Homo sapiens: one gene and its partners. The protein of the gene in region 5 purifies or fractionates together with the protein of the main gene of each other region. This does not show direct contact. Each region holds a gene or a part of one and is shown on either strand. Other genes may lie near its edges.

Region 1 (3,500 bases), on a different chromosome or scaffold from region 5:
GCAGTGACCTGAGATTGCGCCACTGCACCCCAGCCTGGCAACAGCAAGACTCCGTCTCAAAAAAAAAAAAAGAAGCCCAGTGGCTCCCTTAATAAAATCACCCCTTAGCCCTCTGTGGTGGGCAGTGGTGGGACAGTCTCCCTGTGGGGAGGGTGGCTGCACTGTCCAGCCCCAACCCTCCCGCTTCGGGACCCCCACTTCCCCTTTAGGGCCTGAGACTCTGACTTTACCTCCCACCGTACTGCTTGGCCATCCAGCAGCTTTATGACACACACAAGAACCCCCAGGGGCTTGTCTGTGCTGTTTCGCTGGCTGCTCCCACAGCCACAGGCCCTAGACCCATCCTCTTGGAGGTCCTTCTAGCGCTGCCTATGTGGAGATTCTTCCCCACTCATCTTGGGGGTTTGGATTTGTTGCATAAAGCAGCTGATGTGTTTCCCACAGGGTCCTGCCAGCTAAGCCAAGGGCCCATGCATTGGCACTGGGGTCTAGCAGAGAGAGGGGAGCAGGATGGCCCGGCCTACCTCAGGCAGCCTAACCTATGAGCCCATCCTGAGTACTCCTGATGGAGATGGGGAGGTGCCCAGACAGACAGCAAGTGGGGCCCAGCCGCCTCATCAGAATCAGGGCCAGGCTCCACCTGGGAACAGGCCCGTAGCCTACAGCCCACGGCCCCTGAGAGCAGGGTCATCACACTCCAATGAGTCATGTGCATTTTGAATTTCAGTTGCTGCCCAGCCCCTTTGCCAGGCCCTAATGTCTTCCAGATCTCTGGTGGAGAATGTGCCCCTGCTCATCAACAGATAGCTGGCTGGGCTGGCTCCTTCCTGCCTGGTGCCTCCCCCGGCTGCCTTTAGCAAGTGCTGACTGCACTGAGTCCACTGGGACCTTTTCCTTTTGGGTTTCGAGGCTCCTCCCACTCACCCCCACCCTAGTGCTGGAAGAAGTGAGTCTGCAGCTGAAGGGTTGCTGGGGAGTCAGTCTTTCCTCTTACTTAGGAGGGGACCAGGCATACACACACTGTCACAGGTCAGCCAGGCCAGTCAGGGACCAGTGACTCACCTTCCTCCTCAGCCTCCTGGCAGCCGGCCAGCCCTACCCCGGCCCTGCCGGGACGAAGGAGGCCACCCACTGTCTAGACAGATAACACTGTGGGTATACTTATCTGCAGGGCAAGCTCATGAGAAAAATTTTTTTCAGGGAATTTTGTTTTGGGGTCTCCTGAGAGTTCCCCTGTGGCCCAGTGTCTTCTGTTTTCTTCTTTCTCCAAAAAGATTTAACATCACTTCTTCCACCTAAATGTCTGCCAAAGTCATTGCTTCCCCAAGAGTCTGCAGCATTAGATCTGCTCTCCCCTTCTAAGCCACGCACCCTTGATCTCTGTTCATGGTGGCGGCCTCCGCATCCTCAGGGCCGAGCAGGGAGTCCGTGGGTCAGCTGGGCTCCCTTCCTCGTGGGCTGATATCACCGCTGCATGTGTGCACAGGCCTCACCCTGCAGACCACAGGCCAGGGCACTGGAGGACACCCACAGAGGCCTGTGCCTTCACTTCCATTTCCTCGTGGAGCACCCCCTCCCAGGGGCTTGGGCTGAGCTGAGGGACAGCTGTCATCCTCATCTGGCCAAGGAGGGAGCCAGGGCTCAGCGATCTGGTGTTGCTACGTCCCAGGGCTCTACGCCCCCATGGTGCAGGAGCAGTCTCTGCATTTGGCCACAGGCCACCTGCTTCCTTGCTCCCCCGCCCCACCGTGGCTTCCTTCCCCTCCTCTGGCTCTTCTTGTTCCCATCTATTCCACCCCTCTCTCCTTTTTCTGACAGGTCCATGGCCAACCTCTCTGTCCTGTTTGGGCAGGTGAGTGGCCGGTAGGGTGGAGGGCCTGGGGTGTGGAGTTTGTGCCGTGTGTGCCGCTGTGGGAGCTGCCTATTGACTGGGTGTGGGCGGGCAGAGGAGCTGGGGAGACCCCAGCCCAGAGCCATGGCCACTCCCTGGAGATGCTGTTGTCACCCCTACTCCTGCCTCCCTGCGGACTTTGGATCCCCTCCCACAGGTGGTCCGGGGGCTGAGTGCAGGTGCCCGGGTCTTTGAGTACATGGCCCTGAACCCCTGCATCCCACTGTCTGGGGGCTGCTGCGTCCCCAAAGAGCAGCTGCGTGGCTCCGTTACATTTCAGAACGTCTGCTTCAGGTCAGCACGGGTGAGCAGGCGTGGGGATGGGTCCCTGGGCCGGGGATGAGGCGAGTGGATTCGGGGGTGGAGGTCTGGACTAATGTCCCCCATAAACAGGCCCTCTCAGAGGGCTACAGGGAGACTTCAGGAGGGACCCGGGCAACAAGGGCTGGGAGCCTGGTCTGACTGGGGGTCTCTCGGCTCCTCCCAGCTACCCCTGCCGCCCCGGCTTCGAGGTGCTGAAAGACTTCACCCTGACGCTGCCCCCTGGCAAGATCGTGGCCCTCGTGGGCCAGTCTGGCGGAGGTAAGGGGAGCCCACCACCTCTTCACCCTCTGACTCTTCTCTAGCAGCCACTCAGAGCAAGGCCGGGAGCAGTGAGCCCCCGGTGGGGTCCCTTCCTCCACTGCCACAAGGGGCCTTCTTTCCTGGGACAATCCCTAGAATCCCTGGCCTCCCTCCCTCTCAACCCAATTCCCCAGGAAAGACCACCGTGGCTTCCCTGCTGGAGCGCTTCTACGACCCCACGGCAGGCGTGGTGATGCTGGATGGGCGGGACCTGCGCACCCTTGACCCCTCCTGGCTCCGGGGCCAGGTTGTCGGCTTCATCAGCCAGGTGCGGGGCCACATGGGCAGCCCTTGGCTCCCACTGCCCGTCCTCCCCTGGGCCCTGCCCCCTTAGTCCTCAGGTGCCTTTTCTTTCTTTCCCACCCTCATCCTTGCTGCTCTCGGGAGACCCTGGCCGTCTTCACATGTCCTCAGCTGTTGTCTGGGTGAGGCATCCCTGTCGTGGGAGCAGCCACAGCTCTGCCTGGTCTCCCAGAGCAGGGACGCTTTGTCCGCATTTACAGCAGTCTACACAGATGGGGAATCCCTCAGATTCTCTGCAAATCCCATAGCATCCAGGTCTAGAGAAGCCTATAGTGGAGGTGCTGAGCTGCAGCCGTTCTCCCTCTGCTTGAGGTGGCACTGCCCAGCGAGGGTCCACCCTTCCCTTTGAGGGCCGTGAATGAAGAGGGCATGCCTGCTGTCCGCCAGGGAGAGTGCCTGTGCAGAAGAAAGGCAAATGCAAGCCCCCAACTCCCAGCGCCCTGCCCTGCCAGCTCCTCCCACTCCCACTCCTGGGGAGGGATTCTGGGCCCTTGGTAGGAAGTCGAACTGTCCTTCCCTTTTGGGGGCCACTCTGCATCCTCACTTCACCTCTGACTTTGAACGTCTGATTCTTCAAGAGATCCTAATCTAATCCACCAGATAGACTGTCCCATTGTGTATGGTGGCCCCTCCAGTTTCTGGGGCAAAGAGAATGTTTCTATGGACTCTGTCTCCATAACCC
Region 2 (3,500 bases), on a different chromosome or scaffold from region 5:
TATAGAAGATGTGAAGAAAACAACACACACTCCAACACTAAAAGCATGCCTCTTCTCTTCTGTGGCTCAGGGGTAGGTTACTTCCACTTTCCCTGAAATCTTGTATGGTTGTTGTTGTTGTTTTCCCCTCTAGAAATGGTTTAAAAATATAGTGATATGATTTGTGTGATTCTCTCTCTCACTGGCCTTGCCTCCCCTTGCCTTAGCATTGCTAACAGGCAGTGAAAGGGATATTAGCTGAGTGGGGAAAAGGAAGTGAAATAATTCAGTTTATGAAATAGGTTCAGCATCAGGCATCCAGATGTGTGAAAAGAGTACATATTCACATGGTGTTTCTGAGTTGGCTTCAGGTTCTGGTTTGGTCCTGGCGGCCTCTGTGAGCTGTGCTGGCCGCAGCCTGGTTGCTTCCCCTCGGGCTTCCAGTTGCTCCCTATGTGAGCCAGAAGGTTGAAGGAGGCGATTGCCGAGGTTGTCTCTGGCGCTAGCTTTCATTTAGTAACGTTTTATGATGCTCCTGTTTTTGCAATTAGAGGCTCATAAGAGGGCTGACTGTTGTCCCACACTCAGGCCTGATAGCATGCATGTCGTCTGTTCACAGGTATTTTAGAATGGACTCTTCTGCAACCCAGTTTCACATAGAGACTCATGAGAACACATCAGGACTTTGGTCAATATGGTACCGCAACCATTTTGACCGTAGTGTTGTATTAAATGATGTGTTTCTTTCCAAGGAGACCAAGCACATGTTAAAGGTACATATAGTATTTTTTCCCCAAGTTTTAGCTTATTTTAAGCTTTGTTTAAGGTCAGATGCTGTGAAATTATTTCTATAAAATAATAAAAAATATTCCAAATGCTATGAAGTTATTATTTATATAAAATTTTATGATTTTTAAAACATGTATTTTTCTTTTAACATTTTCAGAATTACTTTTAGGAGACTTCTCTTTCTCTCTTTTTAAAAAACTGTTTTTAAAAGAGCTCAAAGGGACCAGGATATAGCCTTTCAAAATTATTTGCTCTTACCATTATTCAAAAATATTATGTATATGTATTGTTCTAAAAAGATTAGTAAAAATGAGCCTGGTTCATGATAAAATAGTAGGTTTTTTGCAAAATATCACTTACTGAAATTTCAAGATTACTTTTGTGAAATTTAAAACAGTGTCATCTTAAGCATTATTTGTAACCTATCATTTCTATAAAAATATTCCAACTTTTGATCTGGAAATAACTGAGTAAAATCATACTTTCTGAAGTATAGAAGAATGTTAGCATCATACTTTATAATGATTTTAATCATAATTAGTGTTAGGAAAAGTAATTTCTCTTGCTTCTTTTCTTTTTAGATTCTGAATTTCACTGGCCCTTTATTTCTACCTCCAGGCTGTTGGAATATATTTTCTTTGAAACTTGCTGTTAAAGACATTGCCATAAATCTATTCACCAATGTATTTTTGACTACAAACATAGGTGCCATTTTTGCAATACCTCTACAGATTTATTCAGCACCAACCAAGGTATTTTCTACAATACTATATGTGTGTTACAGTTTTCTTAATTACTGTTGCTTTTTATTAACCTTTAGTGCTTGAGTTTTATTAACTGGGTTAAGCTCACGTTCTTTAAGGCTAAGAAACTGAAGGATATTACCAGGCCAGTCTTGGATGATAAATTGTTCAGACATAAAAATCTTTATTTGGAAAGAGTTTTCTTTTTTATAAAGTAATTTGAAGTTCTTGAATGAAATAAGGCATGACCAATAGATTAATAGATGTCATTTTCATTTATTTCCAAAATTTGTAGAGCAACCAGTATGTGTTTGCTATAGAAAACACAGGTTGGCTTTTAGTACATACTTGCAATGACTTAATAAATTAAATTGTTAAATGCTTTATTTGGATCTCTTCTAAGTGACTCTTAGTTGCTCGTAATCCTTGAATTTGCTTAGTGGGCCAAGTATAAAGCCTGAAAAGATTCACAGTTAAGAAAATGCTTTCTAAAATCTGGGTAAATTATATTTAATTTAGACCGTCTTAAATATGTCTCTTTCTTTAATATTTATTTCTTTTCATTTGGTTATTATTTTTGCTTCTTTTTGCTCCAAGCTATTTTGTATAACTCTGGGTTCTGGTTTTTCTATGCAACATTCATGCAACCATCTTTATTTTTTTTCTCACTTATAGTGTGGATCTTTCATAGTTAGAAATGCCTCATGCTTAACTAGCTGTAAGCGTACAGATAGGAATTCTAAAATTAAACAATGTAAGGTTAATTCCATTTATCCATATTTTGAGCAGGGGTGGTTTCTTAGAAATTTTTTTTCTATTCAAGAGATGCATGTCAGCAGAGTGTGGGAGGAGCAGGCAGGTTTCAGGTATACCTGTAGGAAATGGGAAATTAAATGTCCTGAATAGCTAGGAGTTGTTATAGATTGGCATACTGTTTCCCAGAGGATTAGAGTTCAATTAAAAAAAAACAAAACTTCTGACCACTGAGAATGTCCTGAGACTAATCTAATCTTTTTTTTTTAATTTTTAATTTTTTTTACAGTTAGGGTCTCACTCTGTTGCCCAGGCTTCAGTGCAGCCATGTGATCATAATCTTTATTTAATTCAGATGGCAGTTTGGTGTCTTGTGGGCCCAAGGGTCATTATTGTCATTGATTATTGTGCCTGCAGAAGCCACTCAGTGACCCTCCTAGGGAGAGACAGTTCAGATTTCTCTGAAAATTCCTTAACAATTAGAAAGTAATTTTTGGCTCGTGGTTAAAGGGAAGTTCACTGAGGTGCAGACCAATGTCTGCTTTGAATTTTAGTGCATTAGAATTTTTATGTTTAGTGCTGTGTTTTAAGTTATTCATATATTACTTTTCAATCTAGGAAGGGAGTCTGGGTTTTGAAGTGATAGCACATTGTGGCATGCATTATTTCATGGGAAAATCAAAAGCAGGTAAGTATTTTGCCCTTAGGCTTTCTGTAGATCTCTAGTTTGGGGGATGGGAAATAGTGAGGAAAATTAGCATTTGTCAATGGAATAATTAGTTCTGTAAAGGCATCATATTCTATAGAGAGGATGATCATTAACAGAATGACTTAAAATTGTTAAGAACCCTCCAGAAACACCTGGGGTACTGTAAATAATGCCCCTTTATTATCTAGTAGCTTGTACTTCCGCAAGGGTTTTTTTTTTTTTTTTTCAAATAACATTGTTCGATCATCACAGCACCCATAGGAAAAATTGGAAGATTCTGATTCTTTTATGAAAGAACTGACTAGAAGTTAGTAAAAATAACTTGGAATTGTATTTGAGGACTTAAGTTATAGGAGTGTAAACATCTTGCAGATGGTGCTAGTTGTGATTTGAGACTGAAGGGCCTTAGTGTTGATGTACAAGCTGTTTCTTGTTTTGAGTTTTTTTTTTTGTTTTTTTTGTCTTTTGATTTATAGAGATATTTAGGGAGAGTTTTAAAGTATAGTTTTTTTTTTTTTTTTTAAAGA
Region 3 (3,456 bases), on a different chromosome or scaffold from region 5:
GGTATATGTAATATTTATGGCTGATTGAGTAGTGATTTTATTTTTTAGGGATCAGATCTGGATAAAATATTTATGAGTGATTAAACTTGAGAAGAAATATTAGAAAATAAGTATTAAGTAGGTACAAAAGTAATTGCGTTTTTTGCCATTACTTTTAATGTCAAAAACCACAGTTACTTTTGCACCAAGCTAATAATAAATATAGGAAATCAACACATACACCTTTTCAACCAAGGCTCATAAAAGGATAATGGGTGACTGAACGATGTCATCTCCAATACTTTGAAGAGAAATCACAAAAAATTACTTATTTTATTTTGAGACGGAGACTTGCTCTGTCACCCAGGCTGGAGTGTAAGTGATCTCGGCTCACTGCAACTTCCGCTTCCCAGGTTCAAGTGATTTTTCTGCCTCAGCCTTCCGAGTAGCTGGGATTATAGGTATCTGATTATAGGCATCAGCACGCTAATTTTTGTATTTTTAGTAGAGACAGGGTTTTATCATGTTGGCCAACCTGGTTTCAAACTCCTGACCTCAAGTGATCCACCCGCCTTGGCCTCCCAAAGGCCATGAGCCACCGTGCCCGGCCACAAAATATTACTTTATAATGGATTAAGACTACTTTGTCTTTAAGTATATATGAAAAAGTGTATTTCTAAGGAAATATTGTACTTATTTAAATCCCACTTGTTTTTGTTTTTCTTTTGTAGCTTTCCTAATAGGATGGTTCTAGGAAGAACACACATAAAAGATGTAGCAGCCAAAAGGAAAATTGAGTTAAACAGTTACTTACAGAGTTTGATGAATGCTTCAACGGATGTAGCAGAGGTAACCTTACTAAATGAGAAGTAATAACATCTTATACCTTTTGTGTTACATAATATTTAAACTAATGAATTGCTTTCTCTTTATTCTTAGTGTGATCTTGTTTGTACTTTCTTCCACCCTTTACTTCGTGATGAGAAAGCTGAAGGGATAGCTAGGTCTGCAGGTGAGATTATTTTTTTTCTCTTTATTGGTAACTCATGATCTGCAAGTCTGTAACTTCTCGATGAATGTGGTAGAATGACAGCAGGCTTACTAGCTGTAGTCTGAGAATGGGAGGAGAGTATTCTTTCTAAGCCAGTCTATTTCTGAATAAATATAACTTTCCTAATAGATGTGATTACTAAAGAAGTATAAATCAATGACCTATCAGGTTGTTTACTCCTTTTTCCCCTCCCTTCTGTCCGCACCACATGTGACAGTCTTGAAAATAAAGCAAAATCCTTTTATTGCAGCTTGAACCACTACAACCAGTAAATAAAGATGAAAATATTTGTATTTTCAGATGCAGGTTCCTTCAGTCCTACTCCAGGCCAAATAGGAGGAGCTGTGAAATTATCCATCTCTTACCGAAATGGTACTCTTTTCATCATGGTGATGCATATCAAAGATCTTGTGAGTGATTACAAAGAATGATGGTTGTAGAGGAAACCCTTACCTTGGTAGGAAGCATTACTATTAAGGGACTGCTTTTCTTTTTAGGTTACTGAAGATGGAGCTGACCCAAATCCATATGTCAAAACATACCTACTTCCAGATAACCACAAAACATCCAAACGTAAAACCAAAATTTCACGAAAAACGAGGAATCCGACATTCAATGAAATGGTAAGTTAAAATCATTTCTAGAAGTTTCCTTGGTTTATTATTTTTTTAATTTTCATTTTTAAGTTCTGACGTGCGTAAGCAGGATGTGCAAGTTTGTTACATAGCTAAACGTACCATTGTGGTCTGCATACCTATCAACCTATCACCTAGGTATTAAGCCCAGCATGCATTAGCTATTTTTCCTAATGCTCTCCCTCCCACCATCCCATCCCCCAACAGGCCCCAGTGTGTGTTGTCCCCTTCTCTGTGTCCATTGTTTTGAGATTTTAAATTTTAAAACATTTTAAGGCCAGGCGCAGTGGCTCATGCCTGTAATCCTAGCAATTTGGGAGGCCGAGGTGGATACATCCCTTGAGCTCAGGAGTTTGAGACCAGCCTGGGCAACATGATGAAATTCCATCTCTACAAAAAAAAAAAAAGAAAAAAATTAGCTAGGCATGGTGGCACGCACCTGTAATCCCAGCTCCTCGGGAGGCTGAGGTCAAAGGATTGCTTGAGCCCAGGAGGTCAAGGCCACAGTGAGTCATGATCATGCCACTGCACTCCAGACTGGGCAACAGAGTGAGAGACCCTGTCCCAAAAAAAAAAAAATTTTAAGTTTTTAGGTATCAGTTGCTGAACTATTTGTTATACAGTGTACACCAATAACAGTCCAATAGTATTTAACAAAATGATATAAAATAGAGCCCTCATAGACCTTAGGAGCCATAATTCAACTACGTTTCCAGTGTGTGAACCCCCCTCTATAATAGTCACAAAAAGTGGTTGTCTAGTCTGTGCTTAATTACTTCCAGACTATTCAGTTTGTCTTAGATCACTCCACCTCTTAGATGATTATTATTATTATATTATTTTATTTATTTTTAGAGGCAGAGTTTCGCTGTTGTTACCCAGGCTAGAGTGCAATAGAGCCATGTTGGCTCACTGCAACCTCCGCCTCCTGAGTTCAAGTGATTCTCCTGCCTCAGCCTCCTGAGTAGCTGGGATTACAGGCATGTGCCACCACGCCTGGCTGATTTTGTATTTTTAGTAGAGACAGGTTTCTCCATGTTGGTCAGGCTAGTTGTAAACTCCCAACCTCAGGTGATCTACCCGCCTCAGCCTCCCAAAGTGCTGGGATTACAGGCGTGAGCCACCATGCCTGGCCTCTAGTTTTTATTTTTTAGCTAATGATTAGTCTTGCTTTGTATCTCTCTATGTCAGACATCACAGGAATGATAGTACAATCCAAGACTCCTGAAACACAAAATGTCCTTCTAAAGTATTCAGACAAAACCTACCGGATGTGTCATAATCAGTGTCACTCATTGTGGTCACTCTTTGGCTAATATTCTCACGTTTTCACTTGAAATGTTCCAAGAAACCAAACAAACTTTAATTTGTGATTTACTGTTCTTTTTTCCTTTGTTGTAGCTTGTATACAGTGGATATAGCAAAGAAACCCTAAGACAGCGAGAACTTCAACTAAGTGTACTCAGTGCAGAATCTCTGCGGGAGAATTTTTTCTTGGGTGGAGTAACCCTGCCTTTGAAAGATTTCAACTTGAGCAAAGAGACGGTTAAATGGTATCAGCTGACTGCGGCAACATACTTGTAAACTAGTGAATGTTTGAGCTTTGGAAGCATGAACAGTTATAAACGTGCATGCATACATGCACACACACACAGACACACACACACACACTTGTTAATTTTGTATAGTATTTTTATACTTGGACAGAACTTATAAAGTTAAATATACTTGCTGCATTTCAACACATCTGTTGGACCAACAGTCACATAACTAACCTTTTTGAATTTTTGG
Region 4 (4,173 bases), on a different chromosome or scaffold from region 5:
GGTACTGTATGATACTATATAAGTATTCAATAATCACGTGGTTCTCAAATTATGGAATCTCAGGAGCCCTCTACATCCCTAAAAATTAGTAAACAGATTAATGCTTGCCAAGGATAGGGGACAGCTTACACAAAAGTGCAGGAAGGAATTTAGGGTGGGTGAGGAAACCGTTCAGTATCTTGATTGTGATGGTAGTTGAATGACTGTATGTGTCTGTCCAAAAACACAGAACTTTTTATTAAAAATGGTGAACAGATTCTATGTGAATTACATCTTTTAAAAAATCGGACTTAAATTTCTTGACAACCCCAAAAGGTTTTGTTTATGTTGGCTACAAGTATCAATACTTAGCATCTTAGAAATTATAACTGAGAAAATTTTAAATAGTTGTGGCGGCTAAAGCAACTCCAACATCCGCCATGTTGACTTATGATTAACCCCAGTTCTGGGATTGCCTCTAAGATTTATATTTTATCTACTGTTCCTTGTGTAAAAGTATACACTTACCGATCTTGCCCTTAGGTCAAACAACCTTGACGCTATTTCACTTACCATAAATCCTGCTCTTAAGCAACTGTCCTACACATCTCTGGTTGGGGGTTGGGGGTCGGGTAATGGGGTGATCCACCATCTCCTTGGGGCCACCCAAGACATGGCTTCTGTTCTTAAGTCCCTTTTAAAGGTTTCTTTCTAAGAAACTGGATTCCTCAGCCTCTCAGCTTCCTCAGCCTTTGGGGATAGGACTGCATAGACCTGTCCACTATGCAACAATTGTTCTTCATGTTTTCATTTTTTAAAAAGTAAATGTATTAAATGTTAACATAAATAATGTATTCTTCAAGCCTGGCCAACATGGCGAAACCCCGTCTCCACTACTAAAAATACAAAAATTAGCCGAACTTGGTGGCAGGCGCCTCCCAGCTACTCCGGAGGCTGAGGCAGGAGAATCGCTTAAACCCAGGAGGCACAGGTTGCAGCACTGAGCCGAGATCGCGCCACTGCACTTCAGCCTGGGCGACAGAGAGACTCCGTCTCAAAAATAATAATAATAATAATGATAATGTATTCTTTATGAAAAATAACTTTTCCAAAACAAAAAACATTTAGTGAGAAGAATCACACTGTGTACATTCTAACAAATGTCTGGCTTCAAATAGAAAACTGTTAGATTCTCATATCTACTTCCTTCTGTTACAGTATCACAACTCAGGTAGCCTCTGGAAAACTCCACTGTACACTTCTGAAAAAATGAGAGTGAAAAAGATAACATCTGCATATTATTACGAAAGTAATTTTAAACTGGCAGTGTCAGAGAATCCCATGGGTCCCTGGACCACAATGTGAACATCTGATTCAGCCTATACAAAAAAAAATTTTTTTAATCAAATTCTGAACATGTAGTAGCAACAAAACTTACTTTTTTCAAATCAAAGAAATAATATCTTATGCAGATAATGTGTTCTACTTTAATGCAGTAATACCATCCTCATCCAGGTCAAAATTTGTACCAACGATTTAAACTGAGCTACAAACTTCAACATAAATGAAAAATATTTCTGAGGTCTAAGGATTTTTTAAAACCAGTAAGTAGTCCATAAGAAAGATACAGCATCATCCTCCAGACCTCACTCATCAACTATCCGTAGGGCAAGGCAGATGAAAGACAGCAAGAACACAAAGAAAGTAGGCAAAGAAATGTCTGACCTCAAAGAAAGAAGAGGTCCATACAACTAAAAGCACAGTAGAATAACTACAAAAGTAAAGCAGTATTAGAGCAAACGCACCCTGGTGTAAAATCCAATAAAATACAACTACTGTCCCTTGATCGCATTGCTAAAAGAACTCAAAATGCTGTTTCAAGACTATATCCCCATTCTGCAGATAGTGAAACTACGCCAGGTAACTCTTGCTTGTACAGTGTCCGTCGTGACTGTGAAAAGGGGAACGCACTCGCTTCTCACATGCTAGGCAGGGTGTTAGGACACTGCGTGAAGGGGAATCCTGGTCTGGCTACAGGAGGCTTTTTGTTTCAGTGCTTGTACAACTTTCATAACTGGAGAGTAGTCCGCAACCATCTATTACTCCAAGAGACTGAGTCAGAAACCTGCTGTCTCCTCACATGACTTTCAAACACTGCGAGCGAGTGGCGACACTGCGAGCGAGTGGCGACACTGCGAGCGAGTGGCGGTACCGCGAGGAGGCCGCCCAAGCCCTGGGCTGGCGCGGATATCTGTGGTTCCGAAACGCTGCGGCAGCTTCTGTCAGTCCTGGGACTTCTGCGGGCGGTTGGCAAGGTCGGCCCTGCTCGCCCAGGCTACGGCCTCGCGGACCCCAGGTCACGCCTCCTTTGAGGAGTACTAGAGCCTCCGTCCTCCCCCACGCTGTTTCCCCATCTGCACTCAGTAAGTCAGACCAACCGGCCCTTGGCGCCCCTCCAACTCTACCATCGAACTGTCTGGGCTAGCGGCCACTCAGCCGCCCACCCGACCCACCCGACCCACCCGACTTAGACGGTCCTCGCCGTCAGGAGCACTCTGAGGGGTCCGGCCCGCGGCGCCCCGCACTCACCCGGCTGACGTTTCACCGCCATCACTGACACTAGATAGTGCGCGATGTCAAAAAAGGGAAACATGGACGTGCGGGAGAAGGCCAGAGCCAACTCGTCCCATGGAGAATCCATAACGACCACCGACCGCGGCAACCGAAGCAGCCGCGGCTACTGGTTCCCCGCGCTCGCGCGGTGAGGAGTAGGAGAGGGCACAGCCGCGGCCGCCCGCTCCTCCGCGCCGGCTCCAGCTCCGCGCGTGCGCCCTGGCGCCGAGGGGGCGGGGCCGCGCTTCGCGGGAGCCGCAGGCTCACCGGCGCTAGGCGGGTGGGCGGGGCGAGCGGGTTCCCCGCGGCTCCAGCCGGCTCTTGCCTCGGTTCTCCTAGTAAGGGTCCAGCGTCTTCTTGGTCCTGGGCGCAGTGCAGGACCTGGAGAGCGTGCAGATGAACAAAACACGGTCCTCAAGGGGAGACGCTCAGAGTTGGATTTATTTCTGTAAATTGATGTCATTCACCTAACATTTATCGAGCAACCACAGTGCAAGTCACACTGTGACTTACTGGAGATATAAAAATAAAACAATAATATCCTGACCTCAAGAACTATGCGTTCCCTGAAAGAGATTTTTTATAAAAAGAGAAAAAACGCACATAATGGTACAAAAGCAGGTACTGAGAAGTATAGCTGCCGTGCGAGAGCAGTTCGAAACGAAGATTACAATTCTGGGAAGTGAGTAAAGTGACATGTGAGCTGGACTTTAAAAGTTAAGTGAGAAACACAAGCTAGGTGGGAGATGGAGGGAGGTGTTTTGGGTTGACTACAAAGTGAGAAATGAGGTTGGGAAAAGTCCTCGAATGGCAGACAAAGCCAGGCAGTTTGGCTCCAGAGGTTAAATTCTTGATCAATCACTATGTTAAGCTCAGAGCCAGAATCTCTTCTCCTAATCTCTACGCTAACTGGGTTGTTTGGTGGAAGGTGAGGGAGTAGAGGTGCAACGAAGCAACAAGATTAAGAATAGATTGATGAGAAGCGACTGACAACGGAAAATCAGAGGGTATTCACTGGTCCAAGCAAAAGGTAGTGGAGGCTGTGGCAGCAGAAATTGAGACCAATTGTGGGAAACATGGGTAGAAGCAGAATATCGTCAGTGAGTGTCAGTCTGTACAGGCGGGAAAGGAAGCATTTGTCAAATAAAATGAGGAACGGGTGAGTAGGAGGATTGTGGTTGCATTCTGATAAATAGGAAACAAGAAGGAATAGGTTTGGGTAAGAAAAAAAACTAGCTTGGCACACTTATTTGATGTGTGAACAGATTATGCTGGCACCAGGAAATTGGAGAAACGTGATTAGCTGCTAGGTAGGTGACAGCTTCACGGGTGTATGCACTGCAAAAGGAGAATTTTTTTTATCTGAATATGTATTCATTAATTTTAATTCATTTAACAAAATGTTTTTTGCGTGCCTACTATGTAACCAGCATTTTGCTGGATGTCAGAAATACTGCCCTAAACACTAAGTGTTTAAAACGTAGGAAAATTGTAGTAAATCTCTACACTTCATTACTTATCAAGAAAGAATAGACTTGTTCAAATACTTTTCACGTGTGGTTTTCTAAGCAAGCACTTCCC
Region 5 (4,109 bases):
CAACACTGTGTACACCGGAGGTAACTTTAACTCTTTATTTTGCTTTCTGGTCTCTCAAATAAGAAACTGTGCTCAATTAAATTTATCTTTAGAACAAAGAGTACATGTGGTTTACACCTAGCTTTTGACCTGAGGCAAAGACGTTTTGCAGAAGCAAATATTTAATACATTTGGGTATTCTAATTTCATGTAAAATAACTAGCTGCAATGAATACTTTTCTGATGGGGTTGACTTAAGTTTCTACAAACATGAATATCCCTCCACTCCTCTTCCCCCAAATAATACTGTATTTTTGGATGAGGAATTAACATAAAGCCTCTGAATTTTAACCAGTTAGATTTTCCTGAGCATAAAACATGTGCAAGTGAGCTCATAAATAAAAACCTGCAAAACTCACAACTTAAGCTTGCCATAAACAAGCCAACAAGAACACTTTCAGCATCCACTTCACATGGCGAGGTCTTAGCTAAAAGATGTGATCCCTAAAAGCACTGGTCTTCTCAAAGAAATGCCAACACAGCAGACACATCAAGTTCACCTAACTTTGTAAATAATCCTTAGCATAACTGAAGTAGAACAACTATGAAGCCCCCTTACTGAACTACACAAACCTATTATTATTAGTCATGCCAGCTCTATTTTCTGCAGATATAGCCAACCATAGCATAGCTAGCTCACGGTACACTCTATAGCAGAAGGGAAGTAAAATTTAATGTAGTTTTTTAAGTCAGTGATTCAGGCAATTCTTGGAATAAGTTCCACTTGAGAAGATGTAACTAAGAGGTCTTATTGAAAGACACTCCCCAGCTGTTGACAGCTCAACTTTGGAAATTCCCTCTTTTTTGCCGATTCCTGACTATCCCTAAATCCAAATTACAAAGTTTAATGACCCTGGAGAGCCATCTTTGCCTCCAGTGAACTCAGAACTGTATCTAAATATTCATTAAGGCTCTAGATAAATGTTTATTGAATTAAAAGGGGGAAAAGACACTGGAAACCTAGCCTCCAAAAACCCACTGCCTGCTCCCTTGCCCACTACAAGATTAAACTGGGTGCTCCTGTGATGAGAGTCAACCCATCCAAGACCCAGGGGGTCTGACCCTGGGCCATGAGGCGATGACAGCCAAGAGGTCTGGGCAGCGGCTCCAAAACGGAGCACCCACTGCCCTGGGAAATGTTGGGCGCTTGCTATGACACAAACCCTCCCCCAGGGAGCGGAACCGGATGGCCGGAAACCAAGTCAGTTCTGTATAGACCCTAAGGCCCCAATCCTATTCCACCACCCTCCTTCCTGTTTATAGATCCCGCTCCTGGAACTCCAACTACCAAAGAGAAAGCAGACGTTTTAGAAGTATGTAACACATGACGTAACTTGAAAAAGTTATGCTGCTTATTGGCGCGAGTTACAACTTGCCGGGCTCACACAGGAAAACAGGCTCACGTTAATTACTTTGCCTTTAATATGCCACGCCGTCCTTTCCTGGGGCCCCCGCAACGGTTGGGTAACTGAGAACCAGGTAGCCTCGGTGGTAGGACCCAAACTGTGTGGGCGGTGAGCAAAAGGCACGGAAGGAAGAGGGCCGATCGCTTCCGAAGCGGCAGCCGACTGGGATTCACTACAAGCCCGGCGGCTCTTTTCCCGCACAAGCGCAGGGAGAGGAAACTTGGGCACCTCACAGGCGGCACCGAGTTGCCCGATCGCTCGGCGATGTCGCCGAGGGGGCTCGCGGCACTGCGCCGATGCCCCTGGCTCGGCCGAGGGCGTGCCACCTTTGTCTGGGTTTCCCCACCAGGATGGGCTACGCCTCGATGCAAAGACGGCTTGAACTGGTTGGAGGCGCCGACGCCGCTGTCCGCGCTGGAGTTCCCAGCCCTGCGCGGGGCCCAGGAAGCCGACACAGCCGCCTGAAACCTCCCACTTACACTGCGCGCACGCGGCGCGCCTGCAAGTCCCAGCCCCGCGGTTACTTCCCTGGCGCGGCAGCCACAGGGTGGAGAGCCGGAGACCCCTCGCTCTCAGGCGCAGAGGCCCGGCGCACCCCTGCCCTCCTGGCACTGCATCGCCGGACCAGGCAGGGCCCCCGTGCCCTCTCCAGGGCCCGCTTCTTCCGCGCCCACGCGAGTCCCTTCTTCGGGAGACAACGGGCCGATGGACCCTCCCTCCCCCAGCAAGACAAGATCTCCGACTGTCCACCGCGTTAGGGAACGCACGACAGACACCCAGACAGCACCCACACCCCTGCCCGCCCCTCGGCCCTCACTCACCTGCCTGCACCGTGTCCGAGAGGTCGTGCCCGGGGGCTGCGGTACGGGGAAATTCCTTCAATTTCCTGGCGCTCAGGTTCAGCCCCCCGGAGTTGGCCGCCTCCTCAAGCGCGCGCTCCAGACCCCGGTTCAAGGGCAGGTTGAAGCCCCCGCTGCCACCGCCGCCACCACCCGCCCCGCCGGGGGCGCCGGTTCCTCCGTGGTGCTGATGGTGGTGGTGGTGGTGGTGGGGATGATGAAGTGGGTGCAGAGTAGCTACCGAAAGGGCCGGGACGAAAGGTTGGGGTTCGCTTCCCGGCGTCGCCATCTTCTCCCGGGCCCCCCCACCCCGCCCCGCCGCTCCTGCGGGGGGGTCACAGCGTTCCCCGCGAGGGGAAAACGGCAGCTCGGGCTGAGTGCCGCAGTGCTCCACCGAAAGGCGCTGGAAGGAGGGGAGGAGGGTGTGGGCAGGCGCGTAGAATGGGGGGCGGGCGGGGAGGCGGCCGTGGCAGCTCGGTCTTGAAGGTTTCCTGTCCCCGGGAAGCTAAGGACTGCGGCGGCGGCGGCGGCGGCGGCAGCGCGCATGTGTCTCCTCCCGCCCCTGCGCCCTCCCCCCGGCTGCTCTGCCCTCCTCCGCCGTCTGCTCTCTCCTCCTCCTTCCCCCACGCAGTCTGCCCCGCCTGAGCCTTCCTCCGCGCCTATTCTGCCGGCCGCCGCCGCCTTGCCGCGATCCGCCCCGCAATCGGGTACACGGCGGGGCTGGACGTCTGCTCCGGGGCAACTGAGGCGCCGAACCTCTCTCTGGGCGTCCTTTTGCCGCCCAGGAGGCTTTAGGGGACTGGAGGTTGCGGGGATAGGGGGGTGGTCTGAGAACACGGATAAAACGGCGGGAGGCAATGAATGGGATTTACAGTACAGTGAGGTTTGGGGCAGGAGAGGGTTCTCTCAATTCTGCGATTTATTCTGGCCGTTTAACCCAGAGATCCCCAAGAGGCAGTTTTCATTCACTATGGGGTCATCCCTGCAGATGCCCCCTGGCATTTGGGCGCTTACAATGAACCAGACGCTTGTTTAGGGAGTCTACGTAAGTTACCTCATTAATCCAGGGACCCCAGGAGTGCCAAAGTTGTTCCCCTGAGTCTACAGAGGAAGTTAATAAATGTATCTAAGGTCACCCCTGCAGTTAGAGGGGCGCTAGATTCGAGCTAGGGCCCTCAGAATCTAGGGTTGCCCTCCTTCACAGTGTACCCCTGGGCCAGACGCCAGCGCCAAGGGACGAATACGAGTGGGACAGAGTGTTTGCTGAGCGGCAGAAGAAAGCTACAGACATAGGAAAGAAAAACTCAAAATGAGGGCAGTGTTTATGGGGGACAGAAGACATTGTCGTAGGAGAAAGATGAGCTGGCTGCTCCCCGAAATTGGGTGGTGCCAGGAGAGGCTAGAAAGCCAGTGACCCCAAACAGCAAATCAGTCACAGCTCGAGTCTGAGCTGAAAGAACCATCGAAGTCTCCTTGTGCCCTTCTTCTTCCCGCTTTGGGGCATGGAAACGAACATGTCCGCTTGCAAGTGAATTCACATTCTGCCATCAGCCACCCAGTGGCACCCAGGCCAATGCTGGCACACCAGGGGCGACAGAGAACATCTGACACCCTAAGGGCAGACCAGCTGGACGATTAATAGAATACCATTCCTTTCCTGAAGTTAAAGCTTCATGTCCAACTTTCCAGGGCCTTTATTTTTGCTCTATTCTTAAGGCTTGATTGTCCCCTATGAGCGACTTGGCTTGGGGAAAATGAGTCGGGGGGTGGGTGCGGGGTTGTCGGGGTGTCAAGCACGAAAGTAATGCAACCCTTGGAGTAGGGG
Region 6 (3,500 bases), on a different chromosome or scaffold from region 5:
TGCAGTGGAAATCTTAGGAAGTCTTCTCAATATTTGATTAAAGACACCAGAGCATCACTGCCGGCATCATATTACACAGAATGGAGGTCAGGACAGCTAGGTTGGGCAGACAGTAAAGTATCCGATTGTTCTTACCTTGTTCTAAGTGCTTTCTGAGTATCCTTGAAACAATAAGAAGATTTAGAAGCAAGCTAGCACATATTCTATGGAGCCAGATTTTTTTTTTTTTTTGTAAAGACGAGGTCTTGCTGTGTTGCCCAGGCTTGTAGCGATCCTCCTGCTTCAGCCCCCACAAAGTGCTAGGATTACAGGTATGAGCCATCGTGCCCAGCGTTGAGCCAGATTACTATTACTGTCTGTTTTTAAATAAAGACAATGCATATGTGCTAGGTATCATGATATTCACACTTTATAAAATTTATTTTTAAGATAAAACCTATATGTATAGTACTTAACTCAGAGTTATAAAGACACCATCCCCCAGCCACCCAGTTCTTCTCCATATGTTCTTCTGCACTTGTCTTTTTCATTTAATATGTATCTTAGAGGGCATTCCATAAATATTCATACAAATTTGTCTTCTTCTAATGGATATGCCTGAATTTATTGAACTATTCTCTCATTGGTGGACATTTAAGCTGTTTGTTTTTGTTTTTTATTTTTATTTATTTATTTTTTTTTGAGACAGGATCTTGTTCTGTCGCCCAGGCTGGAGTGCAGAGGCCTGGTCTAGTCTCACTACAACCTCCGCCTCCTGGGTTCAAGGAATCCTCCCACCTCAGCCTCCCTAGTAGCTGGGTCTAAAGGTGTGCACCATCACACCTGGGTCTAAAGGTGTGCACCATCACACCATCATACCTGTATTTAGTAGAGACAGGGTTTCACCATGTTGGCCAGGCTTATTTGTTTATTTTTTATTTTCTCTTTCGCTAATACAAAATGTACTGCATTAATCATCATTGTACATATACACCTTGGGACTTGTAAGGGTATATCTCAAGAAAAAGAATTCCTAGAAGCAAAATAGTTAGATCAAAGGGTATGTAGATTTTTCTTGGTTGGTTGAACATTTTAATAGATATTGCCAAATTTCCTCTGAAGAAGTGGCACCCATTTAAGTTTCCACCAGTAGACATGAGAGTGCCTTTTCAGGAGCACATCTTTTTGCAAGTAGTTTGACTTCTCTCAAGTTCTTCTGTCCTCTGATTTACAACATTAATAGATGTTCTAATCCTAAGAGATAGTGTGGCATGGTGGGGACAATTGAGTTTTACTTTTTATTTATCTAGTAATTGATTAGAATAAAATTCCTGGCCGGCGGCAATGGCTCATGCCTGTAATCTCAGCACTTTGGGAGGCCAAGGTGAGCGGATCACCTGAGGTCAGGAGTTCAAGACCAGCCTGGCCAACATGGTGAAACCCCATCTCTACTAAATACAAAAATTAGTCTGGCGTGGTGGTGGGTGCCTGTAATCCTAGGTACTTGGGAGGCTGAGGCACAAGATCACTTGAACCCAGAAGGCGGAGGTTGCAGTGAGCCGAGATCGTGCCACTGCACTCCAGCCTAGGCGATAGAGCTAAACTCAGTCTCAAAAAAAGCAAAACAAAACAAAACATAGAATACAATTCCTGACTCTTGGGTTTTTCTCATTAATATGCTAGGGAGTGTGAAATTTTGCAAAGATCATAGGATTTGGAATAATGAGCACTGGGTTCAAAAGCTGGCTGTATTACTTCCTAACTGTACTATTCCCTTCCCATGTCTACTTTGTTCTCTCTTTGAGGCTGTTTCCTGATCTATAATACCCATGTAACAAAGTTATTGTGAAGATGAAATTAGATTACATGTGTAAAATCCTTATTTTAGTGCCTTTCAAATAGTTTGCACTTCATAAATGTTGTTCCTCCCCTCCTATAAATGTGACATAAAAGCTAACAAAATTGCCGGGCACGGTGGCTCACACCTGTAATCCCAGCACTTTGGGAGGCCGAGGTGGGCAGATCACGAGGTCAGGAGATCGAGACCATCCTGGCCAACATGGGGAAACCCCGTCTCTACTAAAAATACAAAAAATCAGCCAGGCGTGGTGGCGGGTGCCTGTAGTCGCAGCTACTCGGGAGGCTGAGGCAGGAGAATGGCTTGAACTCGGGAGGCGGAGCTTGCAGTGAGCCGAGATTGCATCACTCCACTCCAGCCTGGGCGACACAGCGAGACTCCGTCTCAAAAAAAAAAAAAAGCTAACAAAATCAACAGTCTCATTCTAGACTTATTGCTTCTTATTTATTTTTTTTTTTTGAGACGGGGTCTCACTCCCATCACCCAGGCAGGAGTGCAGTGGCACAATCACAGCTCATTGTAGCCTCTACTTCCTAGGTTCAAGCCATCCTCCCGCCTGCCTCATCTTTTTACTTTTTGTAGAGATGAGGTCTCACTGTTACCCAAGCTCATCTTGAACTCCTGGGCTCAAGCAATCCTCCTGCCTCAGCCTCCCAAAGTTTTGGAATTACAGGCGTGAATCACTGCACCTGGACTTAATTGCTTCTTCTCAGGATCTTAGCTGCCTTTAGTAGTTGAGGGTTACGTGACCCCTGATCATTGTGAGAGTTAGACATCATCAACGAATCATGTCTTTTTGCAGCCATCATCATCACGGTAGTTCCATGGTTCTGATTTGGGAGATGACTTTATTTAGTGTGTCTGCCCCTTCTTCCTCACAACTATTCAGCTTATTTCTCTGCCTCCATAGACGTCATTGTCCCTGAGAATGGAGAACCAGTAGGCACCAGAGAGATCAAATGCTGCATCCGACAGATCCAGGAACTCATCATCTCCCGACTTAATCAGGCAGTGGCTAATAAGCTGATCAGCTCAGTGGATTACCTGAGGGAAAGCTTCGTCGGAACCCTGGAACGATGTCTGCAGAGCCTGGAGAAGTCTCAGGATGTCTCAGTTCACATCACCAGTAATTATCTCAAACAGGTAGACAAAGAATGATTTTTAAGACATCGTGTCATAGATAGCACATGAAAAATCTGCACAAGTCCACACTTCAAATTAGGCAAGAATTTCCCTTTCAGCTTCTTGCGAATCTTGTTTGAATTTTATTTTGTTTTCCTGTCACATGACCACTGCCTGTGGGAGATGTTGGTGAGCTGTAAAACTGCAGTTAAGTTGATGAATATAGGCCAGGCACAGTGGCTCACGCCTGTAATCCCAGCACTTTGGGAGGCTGAGGTGGGCGGATAACCTGAGGTTGGGAGTTGGAGACCAGCCTGACCAACATGGAGAAATCCCATCTCTACTAAAAATACAAAATTAGCTGGGCGTGGTGGTGCATGCCTGTAATCCCAGCTACTTGGGAGGCTGAGGCAGGAGAATCGCTTGAACCTGGGAGGCAGAGGTTTCGGTGAGCCAAGATCACGCCATTGCACTTCAGCCTGGGGGACAAGAGTGAAACTCTGTCTAAAAAATAAAAAAAAAAATAAAAAAATAAGTTGAT

The links.
Region 1: the proteins of LRCH1 (region 5) and ABCB8 purify together in Homo sapiens (affinity purification with mass spectrometry; one large-scale study listed by BioGRID and IntAct). This does not show direct contact.
Region 2: the proteins of LRCH1 (region 5) and TMEM131L purify together in Homo sapiens (affinity purification with mass spectrometry; one large-scale study listed by BioGRID and IntAct). This does not show direct contact.
Region 3: the proteins of LRCH1 (region 5) and PIK3C2A purify together in Homo sapiens (affinity purification with mass spectrometry; one large-scale study listed by BioGRID and IntAct). This does not show direct contact.
Region 4: the proteins of LRCH1 (region 5) and TMEM38B purify together in Homo sapiens (affinity purification with mass spectrometry; one large-scale study listed by BioGRID and IntAct). This does not show direct contact.
Region 6: the proteins of LRCH1 (region 5) and DSTYK purify together in Homo sapiens (affinity purification with mass spectrometry; one large-scale study listed by BioGRID and IntAct). This does not show direct contact.

Annotation. Positions count from the first base shown.
Region 1 is NC_000007.14:151,038,450-151,041,949, forward strand, and holds part of ABCB8 (mitochondrial potassium channel ATP-binding subunit), read left to right. Parts: intron 1-1,818; coding exon 1,819-1,852; intron 1,853-2,048; coding exon 2,049-2,185; intron 2,186-2,378; coding exon 2,379-2,473; intron 2,474-2,649; coding exon 2,650-2,783; intron 2,784-3,500. UniProt on the Homo sapiens protein: ATP-binding subunit of the mitochondrial ATP-gated potassium channel (mitoK(ATP)). Together with pore-forming subunit CCDC51/MITOK of the mitoK(ATP) channel, mediates ATP-dependent potassium currents across the mitochondrial inner membrane.
Region 2 is NC_000004.12:153,584,860-153,588,359, forward strand, and holds part of TMEM131L (transmembrane protein 131-like isoform 1 precursor), read left to right. Parts: coding exon 1-72; intron 73-598; coding exon 599-752; intron 753-1,349; coding exon 1,350-1,520; intron 1,521-2,882; coding exon 2,883-2,952; intron 2,953-3,500.
Region 3 is NC_000011.10:17,089,531-17,092,986, reverse strand, and holds part of PIK3C2A (phosphatidylinositol 4-phosphate 3-kinase C2 domain-containing subunit alpha), read left to right. Parts: intron 1-710; coding exon 711-828; intron 829-918; coding exon 919-991; intron 992-1,330; coding exon 1,331-1,440; intron 1,441-1,527; coding exon 1,528-1,653; intron 1,654-3,066; coding exon 3,067-3,249; 3' UTR 3,250-3,456.
Region 4 is NC_000009.12:105,693,168-105,697,340, reverse strand, and holds the start of TMEM38B (trimeric intracellular cation channel type B), read right to left. Parts: upstream 2,801-4,173; 5' UTR 2,681-2,800; coding exon 2,569-2,680; intron 1-2,568. UniProt on the Homo sapiens protein: Intracellular monovalent cation channel required for maintenance of rapid intracellular calcium release. Acts as a potassium counter-ion channel that functions in synchronization with calcium release from intracellular stores.
Region 5 is NC_000013.11:46,551,861-46,555,969, reverse strand, and holds the start of LRCH1 (leucine-rich repeat and calponin homology domain-containing protein 1), read right to left. Parts: upstream 2,801-4,109; 5' UTR 2,574-2,800; coding exon 2,267-2,573; intron 1-2,266. UniProt on the Homo sapiens protein: Acts as a negative regulator of GTPase CDC42 by sequestering CDC42-guanine exchange factor DOCK8. Probably by preventing CDC42 activation, negatively regulates CD4(+) T-cell migration.
Region 6 is NC_000001.11:205,163,203-205,166,702, reverse strand, and holds part of DSTYK (dual serine/threonine and tyrosine protein kinase), read left to right. Parts: intron 1-2,747; coding exon 2,748-2,980; intron 2,981-3,500. UniProt on the Homo sapiens protein: Acts as a positive regulator of ERK phosphorylation downstream of fibroblast growth factor-receptor activation. Involved in the regulation of both caspase-dependent apoptosis and caspase-independent cell death.